Linked DNA regions of Homo sapiens: region 1 is reported to be linked to region 2. The links are microRNA targets in miRTarBase. Many come from high-throughput screens and were not tested one by one. Region 2 holds a microRNA gene; the other region holds the end of a gene's coding sequence.
Evidence for each region. Region 2 holds the annotated microRNA hsa-miR-6752-3p (UCCCUGCCCCCAUACUCCCAG, at 3,899-3,919, opposite strand). A microRNA usually pairs through its seed, bases 2 to 8, with sites in the 3' UTR of a target mRNA and lowers its output. Matches are read on the target gene's strand: a 7mer-m8 pairs with bases 2 to 8, a 7mer-A1 pairs with bases 2 to 7 and ends in A, and an 8mer does both.

Region 1: miRTarBase lists OR1L8 as a target of hsa-miR-6752-3p. The part of its 3' UTR that is shown has no 7-base or 8-base seed match.

The regions. Positions count from the first base shown.
Region 1 is chr9:122,561,604-122,568,720 of GRCh38, reverse strand. It overlaps OR1L8 (olfactory receptor family 1 subfamily L member 8), which reads left to right. Exons shown (of 5, transcript NM_001004454.2): 5 at 32-1,604. The coding sequence starts at 244. The coding sequence ends at 1,173. It also overlaps a transcript of OR1J2 not described here. Among named protein-coding and RNA genes, the nearest start is that of OR1N2, 12 kb to the right of the region's middle.
Region 2 is chr11:67,487,110-67,494,213 of GRCh38, reverse strand. It overlaps MIR6752 (microRNA 6752), which reads right to left and starts at 3,969; the gene lies at 3,899-3,969. It overlaps AIP (AHR interacting HSP90 co-chaperone), which reads right to left. Exons shown (of 6, transcript NM_003977.4): 2 at 7,029-7,104; 3 at 4,759-4,947; 4 at 4,000-4,176; 5 at 3,757-3,898; 6 at 3,111-3,426. The coding sequence ends at 3,221. PITPNM1 (phosphatidylinositol transfer protein membrane associated 1) reads left to right here. Exons shown (of 24, transcript NM_004910.3): 20 at 144-292; 21 at 377-526; 22 at 621-804; 23 at 1,152-1,280; 24 at 1,918-2,446. The coding sequence ends at 2,181. RefSeq lists enhancers at 6,790-6,869, 7,040-7,104.

The DNA of each region.
Region 1 (7,117 bases), not on the chromosome of region 2:
CTAAAGGAAAACTCTCCCTCTGTCCCTCCAGATTTCAATATAATGCCCTTATGGAGCCCATAGATTTGGGAAGGGAGGACCCCATCAAGGACCATGAGGTGAACAAGCCATCCCACAATTAGCACAGTAGCTAATTGTGACCAAACAGAAGAAACAAAGACTTGCTAGGTTCTCATGATTGGTGTTATGAAATCAGAGCATGTTAAATGACAAAACTTCTTGTTTATAACTGAGCCCAAGTCAATGGAAAGAATCAACCACACCAGCAGTGTCTCCGAGTTTATCCTCCTGGGACTCTCCTCCCGGCCTGAGGACCAAAAGACACTCTTTGTTCTCTTCCTCATCGTGTACCTGGTCACCATAACAGGGAACCTGCTCATCATCCTGGCCATTCGCTTCAACCCCCATCTTCAGACCCCTATGTATTTCTTCTTGAGTTTTCTGTCTCTCACTGATATTTGCTTTACAACAAGCGTTGTCCCCAAGATGCTGATGAACTTCCTGTCAGAAAAGAAGACCATCTCCTATGCTGGGTGTCTGACACAGATGTATTTTCTCTATGCCTTGGGCAACAGTGACAGCTGCCTTCTGGCAGTCATGGCCTTTGACCGCTATGTGGCCGTCTGTGACCCTTTCCACTATGTCACCACCATGAGCCACCACCACTGTGTCCTGCTGGTGGCCTTCTCCTGCTCATTTCCTCACCTCCACTCACTCCTGCACACACTTCTGCTGAATCGTCTCACCTTCTGTGACTCCAATGTTATCCACCACTTTCTCTGTGACCTCAGCCCTGTGCTGAAATTGTCCTGCTCTTCCATATTTGTCAATGAAATTGTGCAGATGACAGAAGCACCTATTGTTTTGGTGACTCGTTTTCTCTGCATTGCTTTCTCTTATATACGAATCCTCACTACAGTTCTCAAGATTCCCTCTACTTCTGGGAAACGCAAAGCCTTCTCCACCTGTGGTTTTTACCTCACCGTGGTGACGCTCTTTTATGGAAGCATCTTCTGTGTCTATTTACAGCCCCCATCCACCTACGCTGTCAAGGACCACGTGGCAACAATTGTTTACACAGTTTTGTCATCCATGCTCAATCCTTTTATCTACAGCCTGAGAAACAAAGACCTGAAACAGGGCCTGAGGAAGCTTATGAGCAAGAGATCCTAGGAAGCACCCTCTTGAAAAACTCGTAAGTGGAATCTGCTCAACTTGGACGTGTTTTCTACTGGTTTCTGGTGAACAGTCAAAGCTGTTGGAAGCTAGCACTTCTGACCCATGTGAGACAAGGCTATTGTGGGCACTTACATCCATTGATGATGACCCAACAATTCGGCCTGTATCTCTTAAATCACAATCGTTTCCTGTCTGTGTCTCCTCTTTCTTGGAAAGATTTATTTTTTCCACTTTCTCATTTTCCAAAAACTGCTTTAATCTAATCCTTTCCCCATGAATATTTCCTAAACAAATTTCTCTCCTTTTATTAAGGCAGATCCTCCAAAATTCTTCACATTTCAATATATTGCTGAAAAATGTGTAATTTGTAGCCATTGAATGTTTTTGCAAAAAAATTGAAAAGAGAAAGAATGAAGGAAGAGGAGGATATATATTTTAGCTAATTTTCTCTTCTTGAGAATTTTTATAATTTTTTATTTTTCTCCTTCTAAAAATGTTTTATTGCTTAAATCTTAAGCTTTTACTTTTTTATCTTTCTATCCTTCCTTTATTATACTGCTGTAGTTTTATTTACTTTTAATTTCCTCTTATATTTTATCATACAATTTAAAAATGCTAATGGTCAGAAAGAACAAAAACCACAAGGGATAACATGGAAATTATCCATTTCACACAGGGGAGGTTGAAACATTTCTTCTGGTTCACCTTCCCATAAACTATGTGTTTAAAATGTGTGATTTAATACTTCGTCTAGAAACTGTCATTTCTAGGACTCTAGCCTATAGAAATATTATTATAAATTTGTATTGAGTAATATTATTGTAAATGTGTATTGAATATTGTGAGATATATGTATATATAATCTCCAAAGATGTTCAGGGAAATCCCAGTTTATAATAGGTAAAAATGGCAACAACCTAAAACCTTTTCAATAGGGAAATGGAGAAAGATGCTATGACTAATTCCATAAAGTGTAACTATATGCAGCATGTTCAAAGAATCAAATATATCTTTACTGCTTCCTTGAAAAGCCATTAAGTAAGAAAATTAAGATATGGAACAAATGTAAAAGTATGAATCCATTACATTAAAACATTATATAAATATGAATGTACATATGTGTGTAGCCACTGGGGTAAGAATGGAAGGGCAGGGGGAAACATGGAGGGAGAATATTTCCTCATCTTTATACACAGTTGTAATGTCTGAATTTCTTCAAATAAACATTTATTGCCAATGGAATAGAAAACTATTAATAAACAAGATGACCTATGCAATGGTGAAAGACTTCATAAATTACCAGTTGAAGAAAAACTTTCTGAGTGCATGCATATCTAAAAACACGATTTTGGCACGTTTACTTTAGTAGACAATTTGATAATTTGATAGGATGCAGCATTCTAGGTCCAAAGCTTTTCTTTCAGATCTTTTAAAGATACATCTATATTATTCCAATGCCTCGGGTGTTTTCAGTGATAAATAAGAGGTCACCCTAATTTGTGTTCCTTTGTAATGATTTCCTTCTCATTGGATCATACTCCATAGATCCCTAACACCAAACATGGCTATGCTGCCACTGCTTAGGCCTTGGAAGAGCAGACCCTGATTCCACCTACTTTACTCCAAGCCTGAGTTTAGGAGTCCAGTCATTGTTCTTGACTGTGTGTATTCTCATGGGTGTCAACATGTAACAAAAAGGTAAAAAATAAAATACTAGGCAAACAGTTCTTAGAGTTGAAATCAAAAGCAAAGAGCATGATCCATAAAAGGAAAAATTTTAAAGTTGAACTTCATAAAAATTAAACTACTAGAAGGTGAAGGTGGGGAGAAGGTAAGTTAAAAACTACCTGTCAGGTATTATGCTCACTACCTGGGTGACGGGATCCATACTTCTTCTATGACAGAAGCAGACTAATGTAATCAACATACCACCAAGTAATTGGCTAATCACCCTTGGGAATGGTGCCATTGGGGGGCTCAGCGTTGGTCTCTGCTGCTGGCAGACTGGGCACTCAAAGGTGGCAGTGGCCAGGTCAGCCCTGGTTAGTGGGAGTACATGCTGCTGAACCCATACATAACCTCCATCCCTGCCGCCATGGCCATTTTGTTCATGAGCCCATTGGGCGATGACAGTGGTGGCTGGGGAAAGAGACTCACTGGTATCCACAAAACGGGTCATCCTATCCACTTATTAAAACCTCCCCTTCTGAGGTCATGCTTTGGTGAGTATTTACATGGGACACAGATATCTTCATATCTTTGCCCATTCATAGAGGTCTATTCACATTGCTCTTCCCCAGGTATCTTTGTCATCAATTTTCCAATCATGTTGCTTCCAAATCCCTGATCACCCAGAATGTGTTTCCTCTAAAATCCAAATAGATGCACCAGGCATAGTGCCTCTCTCTTGGGTGTAAGAGGGGCCAGACACCTATCCTTCACCTTAAAAGGGCTATCTGGACAGGTCTCACACCACTGGACCCTATAAATTTCACGAGGAAGTATAAGTCCCTTGAATTTTAGCCAGATTTATTTGTACTTTTTGACACACAAATGTCCTACCAATGAGTTCAGACTCACTAGGTCTAATTGGCACAATGTTATCAATATAATGGACCAGTGTGGCATCTTGTGGAAGGACAAGTGGTCGAGAATTCTGTGAACTTGATTATGACATGGGGCTGCAGAATTGATATACTCCTGAGGTATGACAGTTAAGGTGTACTGCTGGCCCTGCCAGCTGAAAGCAAGCTGCTTCTGGTGGGCATTACAGACAGGGATGGAGAAAAAGTCATTTGCCAGATCAATAGCTACACACCAGGTACCAGGAAATGTTAATTTGCTCAAGCAGTGAAACCACATCTGGTACAGCAGCTGCAATTGGAGTCACTGCTTGGTGAAGCTTATGATAATCCACTGTCATTCTCCAGGATCCATCTATCTTCTGCACAGGCCAAATAGGAAAGTTAAGCAGGGATGTGGTGGGGATCACCACCCCTGCATCTTTTAAGTCCTTGATGGTGGCACGAATCTCTGCAATTTCTCCAATGATACAACACTACTTTTCATTTACTATTTCCCTAGGTAGAGGCAGCTCTAATGGCTTCCATTTGGCCTTTCCCATCATAATACCCCCCCACTCCACAAGTCAGGAAACAAATGTGGGGATTCTACCAGGTGCTAAGTATGCCTATTCTAATTATGCATATTAGAATTGGAGAAATAACCACAGTTGCACTGGGGACATAACCACAGTTAGAATTGAGGAAATAACCACAAGATGGGTTTTGGGATCGAGTGGACACACCGTAAGTTGGATCTGAGCTAAAATTTCATTAATCACATGACCCCCATAATTGCCTACTCTAACTAGAGGGCAACAGTGATGTTTCGTGTCTCCTGGAATCAACATCAGTTGAGAGCCAGTGTCCAGTAGTCCCCAAAAGATCAGATCATTTCCCTTTTCCCAATGCACAGTTACCTTGGGAAATGACAGGAGGCATCACACTACCTGACTTCAAAACATACTATAAAGCTATAGTAACTGAAACAGCATGGTCATAAATACAGACATATGGATAATGAAACAGAATAGACAACCCAAAAATAAATCATGTATCTATAGCCAACTGATTTTTGACAAAGGTGTGAAGAATACACATTGGGAAAAGCACAGTTTCTTCAATATATGATGTTATAAAAACTGAATATGTGTATGCAAAAGAATAACTAGATCTCTATCTCTTACCACATACAAAACTCTGCTCAAAAGAAATTAACAACTTGACTGTAAGACCTGAAACTATGAAAATACTAGACAAAGCCATAGGGGAAATGCTTTATGACATTGATCTGGCTAAAGATTAATTGGATAAGACCTTAAAAGCATAGACAACAAAAGCAAAAATAGACAAATGGATTTACATAAAACTAAATTGCATCTGCGCAGCAGAGGAAACAATCAACAGAGCAAAGAGACAACCTACAGGATGGGAGAAAATATTTGCAAACTATGCATCTGTCAAGAGGTTAATATGTGGAATATATAAGAAACTCAAATGTCTCGATAACAACAAAAAAACAAATAAATGATTTTAAAAATGGAGAAAAGACCTAAATAGATATTTCTTAAAAGAAGACATCTATATGGTCAACAAGCTTATGGAAAAATGCTCAGTATCACTAATCATTAGGGAAATGCAAATCAAAATCACAATGAAATATACAATAAATTATTGTTAACTATACTATGATGTATCCATAAAATTTAAAAATAAAAACAAACTTTTTAAAAACACAATGAGATATCACCTCATCCCAGTTAGAATGGCTATTATCAAAGAGACAAAAAAAAAAATAACAAATGCTAGTGAGGATGTGGAGAAAGGGGAGCACTTATACACTGTTGGTGAGAATATAAATTAGTACATCCATTATGGTCAACAGTGTCAAGATTCCTCAAAAAATTAAAATATATCTACCATATGATCCAGTAGTCCCACTACTGGTTATATATCCAAAGGAAAAGAAATAAGTACGTCAAAGAGTCATCTGCACCCTCAAGTTTATTACAGCACTATTTACAACAGCCAAGATATGGAATCAACCAAAATGTCCATCAGTGGATACACGGATTTTTTTAAGTGCTATATGTGCACAATGGAACACCATGCAGCCATAAAACGAATAAAATCATTTTTATTCTTTTGTGGCAGCATGGATGAACCTAGTCGACATTATGTTAAATAAAATAAGCTAGGCACAGAAGGACCAATACCCATATTCTCACTTATTTGTGGGATTTTTAAAAAGTTGAATTCAGAAAACAACCAAAACAGCATGCGAACCCTGCAACGGCAACCAAGGTATCCAGGTGCTGTCACCAGGACTGACTAGGCAGTTGGTATGACACACGGAGAGGAAGGAAGTGCAGTGTGGTGTGGCAGCCCACCTGAGAGCCACACAGGGCAGGGGAGTCCCCACCCACCAGCCAAGGGAGGTGGTGAGTGAGCGTGCTACCCAGCCTGGGAAACCATGCTTTTTCCACAGAACTGTGCAACCCACAGATCAGAAGATCCCACTTGAGAGCCCCTGCCACCAGGGCCTAGGGTCCCAACAACAGAGCTACGCAGATTCTCAATAGCCACTCAGCTAGAATCTGCTTAAGCCTGCTGACTTCCTGGGAGGAGTTGCAGCCATCACCACAGCTGCAACTGCCTGCTGCCTAAGCTGTCTAAGCTCCCTGCGGGAGGGGCAGCAGCCAACACTGGGACTGCTAGCTGCCTAACACACTAAGCTCCCATGGCGGGGGAAGGGCGGCAGCCATCTCTATAGCTCCAGGTCACTATTTTCCCCTGCCGAGCCAGGGAGACTTGGTGGCAAGAAATATTCCCCACAGCCAAACACACCGGCTGTGGCAGACTGCAGCCAGAGTGCCTCTTCAGGCAAGACCCTGACCCATCCCTCCTCACTGGGAGGGCCTCCCTGCAGGAACTCCAACAACTCCCGCCAGGGGCTCAAGGACAGAACTCTCATCTCCCTGGGCCTGAGCCCCTAGTAGAAGGGGTGGCCATAGTCTCCACGGACCAGCAGACTTAGTTTTTCCTACTGCTAGTTCTGAGGAATCTGGGCAGCCCAGATGAGTAAGTTTCCCTCCAGCACAGCATACCCCCTCCACCAAGGGACAGCCAAAGTGCTTCATTAAATGGGTCCTGCTCCCAGTGCCACCAACTGGGTGAGACCCTGCAACAGGGGTTGTCAGACATTTTATACAGAAGCATTCCTGCTGGCATTAGGTCGGTGCCCCTCAAGGTCAGCGATACCAATGGAAGGAGCAGGCACCCATCTTTACTGTTCTCCAGCTTCCCCCAGTGACATCTCCAGGTGCAGGAGTGAACCAGATGAATAAGGCCTGAAATGAACCCCCAGCAAACCACAG
Region 2 (7,104 bases):
CCATGGCCCCATCTCCTGTCCTCGGAACAGCTCCTGGTCCCTGGTGGTTGTGCCCCTAGACCCACCCATCCCCGACGACAGCCCCGCCTCTGCCCACCTCCACGCAGGGCCCCCATTTACCTCCCGCCCCTTCTCCCCTCCAGGTGGATGTCTACATCATGACGCAGCCGCTGTCGGGCAAGTGGATCCACTTTGGCACCGAAGTCACCAATAGCTCGGGCCGCCTCACCTTCCCAGTTCCCCCAGAACGCGCGCTGGGCATTGGTGTCTACCCCGTGCGCATGGTGGTCAGGTGAGCGCGGCTGGCCGGGCCTCTGCGGGAGGGCTCCGCCAGGCCTCGCCCCGCGCCACTCACGCCCCGCCCCGTGGGCCGCAGGGGCGACCACACCTATGCCGAATGCTGCCTGACTGTGGTGGCCCGCGGCACGGAGGCTGTGGTCTTCAGCATCGACGGCTCCTTCACCGCCAGCGTCTCCATCATGGGCAGCGACCCCAAGGTGCGAGCTGGCGCCGTGGACGTGGTCAGGTAGGAGTTGCCACTGCCACCACCACCCATTTCACCGGGGTGACCGGCCCCTCACCCCTGGCCAGCGGAGCTGACCGCTGCCCCCGCCCCACAGGCACTGGCAGGACTCCGGCTACCTGATCGTGTATGTCACAGGCCGGCCGGATATGCAGAAGCACCGCGTGGTGGCATGGCTGTCGCAGCACAACTTCCCCCACGGCGTCGTCTCCTTCTGCGACGGCCTCACCCACGACCCACTACGCCAGAAGGCAATGTTTCTGCAGAGCCTGGTGCAGGAGGTGCGGCGGCTGGGGGAGGCTCCGGGTCCTGACCCCGCCCCCGCTCCCCCTTACCCTCCACCCCCGGATCGGCGGAGGCCCATCTGTTCCCAACTGGATCGGCCCGGGCCCTGCCTGACTGCAGCGGCCCGCTACGGTCCTGCTCCCCTAGTTTGAGGGGCCCCGTGTACTTAGGGGCAACTAGGGAGATGCAGCTGGTCCCGCCCCTGTCCCCGTGGGACTGGGACCTGTCTTCGCCTCCGTCTGCCTGGACCCACCCCCAGAACAATCTGGGGAAGCCCAACAGGCCCCGCCCCCAGCTGCACGGCTCCACCCCTGGGGCGGCTGATTGGCATCTCCCGCCACAGGTAGAACTGAACATCGTGGCCGGTTATGGGTCTCCCAAAGATGTGGCTGTATACGCGGCGCTGGGGCTGTCCCCGAGCCAGACCTACATCGTGGGCCGTGCCGTGCGGAAGCTACAGGCGCAGTGCCAGGTGAGGCCCAAGTGAAGGCCAGGAACAGGACCCCACCAGGGGGCAGGGCCCTCAGTCCCAGGCCTTGGGAACCACGGACTCTGGGGAAGATGTGAGAAGGCCTAACCGGCCTCCAGGGAACCTGGGATCCTCCGAGGACAAGGGCCATGAGCAGCTTGAGCTGCCAGCTGCCAGGCAAGCCAGAGGGGACAGCCCACACTGGAAAGTGCTCAAGACCCTAGGCGCTGGTTCCACTCGGCCATGGCTTTCCACTGTGACCTTTCTGAGCCTCAGCTTCCCATCTGTAAATGGAAATGATCATGGCACTGCCCATGTCAGCTTATGAAGATCACATCAACAGGCACAGGGCTGGGCACAAAGCAAGTGCTGGCTAAACATTGGCTGCTGTTATTTTTCCTCTAAGACCCCATTTTCCAGATGAGGAGACTGAGGCCCAGAGAAGGGCAGAGCTAGGAGCACAGCCAAGGTGCCCTGGCTCCCAGCCTGGGGTCCTATCTATTGAGAAGGCTTCAGCTCAGGCTGTGCCAAGCCTGCCACCAGTCCCCCAGCCTGCCTCAGGTGCCTCTGGAGGACCGTGGAGGGCAGCGTGTGGGCCCTTGGCCAGCACCCCCTCATCGCTGCCTACCTCTGCCCACAGTTCCTGTCAGACGGCTATGTGGCCCACCTGGGCCAGCTGGAAGCGGGCTCGCACTCGCATGCCTCCTCGGGACCCCCGAGAGCTGCCTTGGGCAAGAGCAGCTATGGTGTGGCTGCCCCCGTGGACTTCCTGCGCAAACAGAGCCAGCTGCTTCGCTCGAGGGGCCCCAGCCAGGCGGAGCGTGAGGGCCCGGGAACACCACCCACCACCCTGGCACGGGGCAAAGCACGGAGCATCAGCCTGAAGCTGGACAGCGAGGAGTGAGGCCCACACCAGCCTGGACCTGGGTTATTTATTGACACACCCAAGGGGCCCGAGGGGCTGCGTGTGGGAGGCTGGGGACCCAGACTTTTGGCCCCAGCGCTGGCCCCCCCAGCCCCACACCCTATATCTCCGTGTGCTCCTCGGTGTTACTTCCCTTTCATATGAGGGGACCCAGCGCCGGGGGGAGGGAGGAGGGCGTGGGCATGGGCGCAGAGGCTTTTCCAGTGTGTATAAATCCATGAAAATAAACGCCACCTGCACCCCACCCACTCACCCCATGCCTGGCATCACAGGGCAGCCAGCCCAGTTTCCAGTTCAACAGGGGACACTGATGTGCACAGAGAGGCCAACACACACCCAGGGCCATCCAGCTCACAGGCAGGGTCAGGATGGGGGCCTGGGCCTCAAAAGGTCGCACGAAACCCACGCCCAGGGCCATCCATGTCACAGGCAGGTCAGGATGGGGGCCTGGGCCTCAAAAGGTCTCACGAAGCGCTCGGCCCTCTCCTCTTTCTGGACAGTCAGCCCACCCCAGCCCAACCCGGCTCACCTCAGCCCCAGCGTAGCTTCTCATGGAAACCCTGCCCCCAGACACCGAGGCCAGGAGACCATGGGATCCGAGGCTGGAGTGGGAGGGCAGCACCAGGAGACTACCTCCCTCAGGTGCCCAGCTACCTAGCTTGTACCCACTTCATCTCCCCCTTAAGACTGTGGGCTCCTGGGGCGCCCCAGCCCTGGCCAGCGAGAGACACTTCCTTGGTGAAAGAGCTCATCGTAATTTCTCTAACAGGGACACCAGAGCCTCAGAGCTGGTGGGTGGAGGGGCTAGGATTTGAACCCTGATTCTTTGCCTCCCAACAGCCACCCAAGTACCAGGAATGCCAGGTGATGACCCGGCTCTCCCAGTGGAGCAGCTCAGCAGACTCAGAGAGAGATAAATAAAGGCCTTTATATACACAGAAGCATGACGCAGCACGGGCAGGGGGGCTGGCAGCTGCAGCAGTGGGCTTGGCAGGTAAGGCAGGGCCAAGTGCTCCTGTCAATGGGAGAAGATCCCCCGGAACCGGGCTTTGTCCTCTTCGTCCTTCTGCCGGATCCGTGCCTCCAGGGCCCGCAGCTCTCGGCTCACCACAGGCGCCAGGGCTGGGTCCAGCTCCAGCACTTTGGCAAAGTCAGCCTGGGCCTCCTGGGCATTCCACACGGCCGCGTGGGCCTTGCCCCGCTTGAAGTAGGCCTTGACGTTGTCTGCAGGGGAGGCCAGTGGGCAGTGGGCATGCAAGGGCATGAGGGGGGATCCTGGCCAGCTGCCTGCCCTCATGTCTCCTGGCACCATGGGCCCACAGGGGAGAGAGAGCCCTCCCTGACCTGAGGATGCCACCCCACCCCCAATACACCATTCATGCTTCATTGGCACAATGGGGCCCACAGCCCTGCCGAGTAGAGGCATTTAGTCAGGCCCCCGTGGGAGCTCAGAATGGGGGTTGTGAAAGGCTAGGTCTTGACCCCAGCAGTGACAGGAGAAAGGCCACTCTCTGACCACTCGCAGCCCCCGGCAGCCCAGGGCCCGGTGCTCACCGTCGTACTTGTTGAGGATGGAAGAGCAGTGGTCCAGCACCTCGTAGTACTCCTCGACCACCAGCTTGCACTGGCAGTAGTTGAGCAGCAGCGGCGTGATCTGCTGGTCCAGCTGGATCCATTCAGGGGACCCAGGCTGTTCCTGGGAGTATGGGGGCAGGGAGCGGGGAGAAGCTGTAGACCTGGGCCCCCTGGCTCCACACCCCCCTCCATCCATCCTCCCCCTCAGCCTCCAGGCAGTACCTTCATCTGCAGGTTCTTGAGGCAGGCAATGGCATCGTAGTACTTGGCAGCAGCCTCCTTCACATGCCCCTCGCGGTACAACCGGTTGCCCTCCTGGTGGATAAGTGGCACTGCCTTTGCCTTCTCTTCGTCTGTCATGGCCCATGGGTCCTGCTGGTACGTGCCAGGGCTCTCCACCTGCAGGGCATGGGGCATATCACAGCGGGGCTCGGGGACACCACAGCTGCGTCCGTCAGCAGCAGACCTGACCCACATCTGGGCTGGCTGGGCCCCCAGACATCACACACCAGCAGCAGAGCTACTTGTCACTCAAAAAGCATCAAACATCGATGTCACATCTCCTGTGTGCCCAGCACTGTGCCAAGTGCTAAGAATAGAACAGTGAACAAGACGGTGAAAAGCCCTGCCCTCGCAGAGATCATGCTGCATGGCAGGTTCCCTAAATGGACAAGGAAATCCATGAATTCCAAGGGACTTCAAGGTGCGGCAGAGGCTATAAAGGAAATGAGCTGCTGCGAGACAGAGAATGAGGAGACCGGGTGGGCAGGGCCGGTTTCCTGGAGGAGGTGACATTTGAGATGTGAAGGAGGAGGAAAGGAGACCCAGGGTACTGCCAAGGGTCCTGCACAGGTTTTCTTGTCTCTGTCCGCTCCCCCAGCAGTCCACCTGCGGATCCCACCACCCCTGGGTGGACAGGCCAGCGCCGCCCTGAGGCTGGGCAGTGGGGGCCTGGTGAGACCAGGCGCGGTGGCCCCTCACCTTCAGCATCTCCATGTGGAAGATGAGGGGCTGGGGGTTCTGCTGCAGGGCGTCCAGGTCAGCATGGCCCAGGGAGCTGTGTTCACGCATCTGTGCAACACCGCAGCAGTGCCGCTGGCCCTCCAGGGGGTCCTTGCCCACCGCGATGTTGCGGAGACTCTTGGCCACCAGCGGGTACAGGACCACATGCTGCGGGAAGGCAAGGGCGCCGGGGGCTCTGTCACCGTGGGCTGGCTGGTCACCGGGTCCACAAGGCCCAGCCCCCTTCCCCACCACCATCTGAGAACAAACACCAAGGCCCAGAGAGTGACAACTGGGACCCTACTCCGTTTAAGCACAGGAGGCTTTTAATTCAGGACTCCTCCAGTCGCTCAGCCCTCTCTCCTGGTGAAGCCCCAGCTTCTGCCACATTCTCTGGCCACCAAACAGAGCACCTAACCCCCTCCTCACCCCCACCACAGACACATGCCTACCATCAACCCCTGTCTCCCTGGTCCTTACAGGCCCAGTAGAATTCTTACCTCCTCTCCCTCCAGAGGATAAGGCCCTTTGCTGGACTATGCAAAGAACTGGGGCCCCCCACATTCTGTTCCCAGCAGCTCCTCCTTCTGCCCCACCCACACCCCACTGAGGGCCTACCTCAGAGCTGGGCCCAGGCCAGCCACTTCAAAACCCTCAGGGAGGCCGGATGTGGTGGCTCACGCCTGTAATCCTAGCACTTCGGGAGGCCAAGGCGGGCGGATCACCTGAGGTCAGGAGTTCAAGACCAGCCTGACCAACATGGTGAAACCGCGTCTCTGCTAAAATACAAAAATGAGCCGGGCACGATGGCAGGTGCCTGTAATCCCAGCTACTCAGGCAGCTAAGGCAGAGAATCAGCTGAACCCAGGAGATGGTGGTTGCAGTGAGCCAAGATCACGCCACTGCACTCCAGCCTGGGCAACAGAGTGAGACTTAGTCAAAAAAAAAAAAACCCCACAGGGAGACAGGCATAGGGGACCTAGCCTCTAATCTCTTGCTTGGCAAAGCTGCTAGGCTGGTGGGAACCAGATAACCAGATTCCTCCTACCCGGGTCCTCCCCACTCCTCCCACTGCCCTGTTGTCTGGACAGGGGCTGACTGCCGGGCTGCCATCAGCGGGCATTTCCTGAGTCTTGGCTCTGGACTGGCTCGCGCTGGGCATCCCAAAGCTAGAAGTAAACAGGCCAGATCCCTGCTCTGCAATAGCCTAGGACAAGGCAGAAGAGCAGATCCTGGCCATGCAGGGCATGAGGGTTGGAGGACCCAAACATGGGAGTTGAGCCAACCACTAGCAGTCAGGGAGGGCTTCCTAGAGGTGGTGACCCAGGAATAAGCTTTGAAGGAAGAGGGAAGATCTTGGCTAAGAAGGGGAATGGAAAGGAAAAGCAGGGAGGTTGAGTAAGAGGGTGAGACGGCAGGGGCCAGCCCCCAAAAAGCTATGTGAGCAGCTATAGCTTATACGGTTTAAGTCCTCACTTAACGTCCTAAGTAGGTTCTTGGAAACTGTGACTGTAGGCGAAACAATACATAACGAAACCAATTTTTCTTCTCATCAATGTTCTAACAAAATTTTGCTGAGAGAAATGACGGTGGCTGAGAAAAAACCTGATGTATGTTTTTTCTCTTAGTCACAGTTTCCAAGAATGTATCAGCAACATGAAGTGAGGACCCCCTGTGCTCTATCCTTACAGTGACCAGGAGTCATAGAGGTTTGAAACAAAGGGATGTACAGGTCATTTGCATTTGAGAACGAGTCCCCTGGCCTCAGTCTGGCTAATAGGGGAAGGCGGAATGGAGGCCAGGACGCCATCAGCAGGCTGGTGTGGTGGTCTGGAAAGAGTGGGTGGGCCGGGCGCGGTGGCACACGCCTATAATCCCAGCACTTTGGGAGGCCAAGGCGGGTGGATCACCTGAGGTCAGGTGTTCAAGACCAGCCTGGCCAACATGGTGAAACCCTGTCTCTACTAAAAATACAAAAATTAGCCAGGCATCATGGCGGGTGTTTGTAATCCCAGCTACTCGGGAGGCTGAGGCAGAAGAATCGCTTGAACCCAGGAGGTGGAGGGTGCAGTGAGCTGAGATCGTACCACTGCACTCCAGCCTGGGCGACAGAGCAAGACTCCATCTCAAAAAAAAAAAGAAAGCGGGTGGCAGTCTAGCAGAGGGTGGAGGGAGGAGGAGCCCTGGGGATAGGGAATAGGAATAGGGCTTGGCTGGACAGCCACCGCAGACAGGTACAGGACAGACACCTTGATGTCACAGAGGAACTGGGCAATCTCCCCTTCTCGCATGGTGCACACGATGGTCTCCCACACAGGCAGCTTG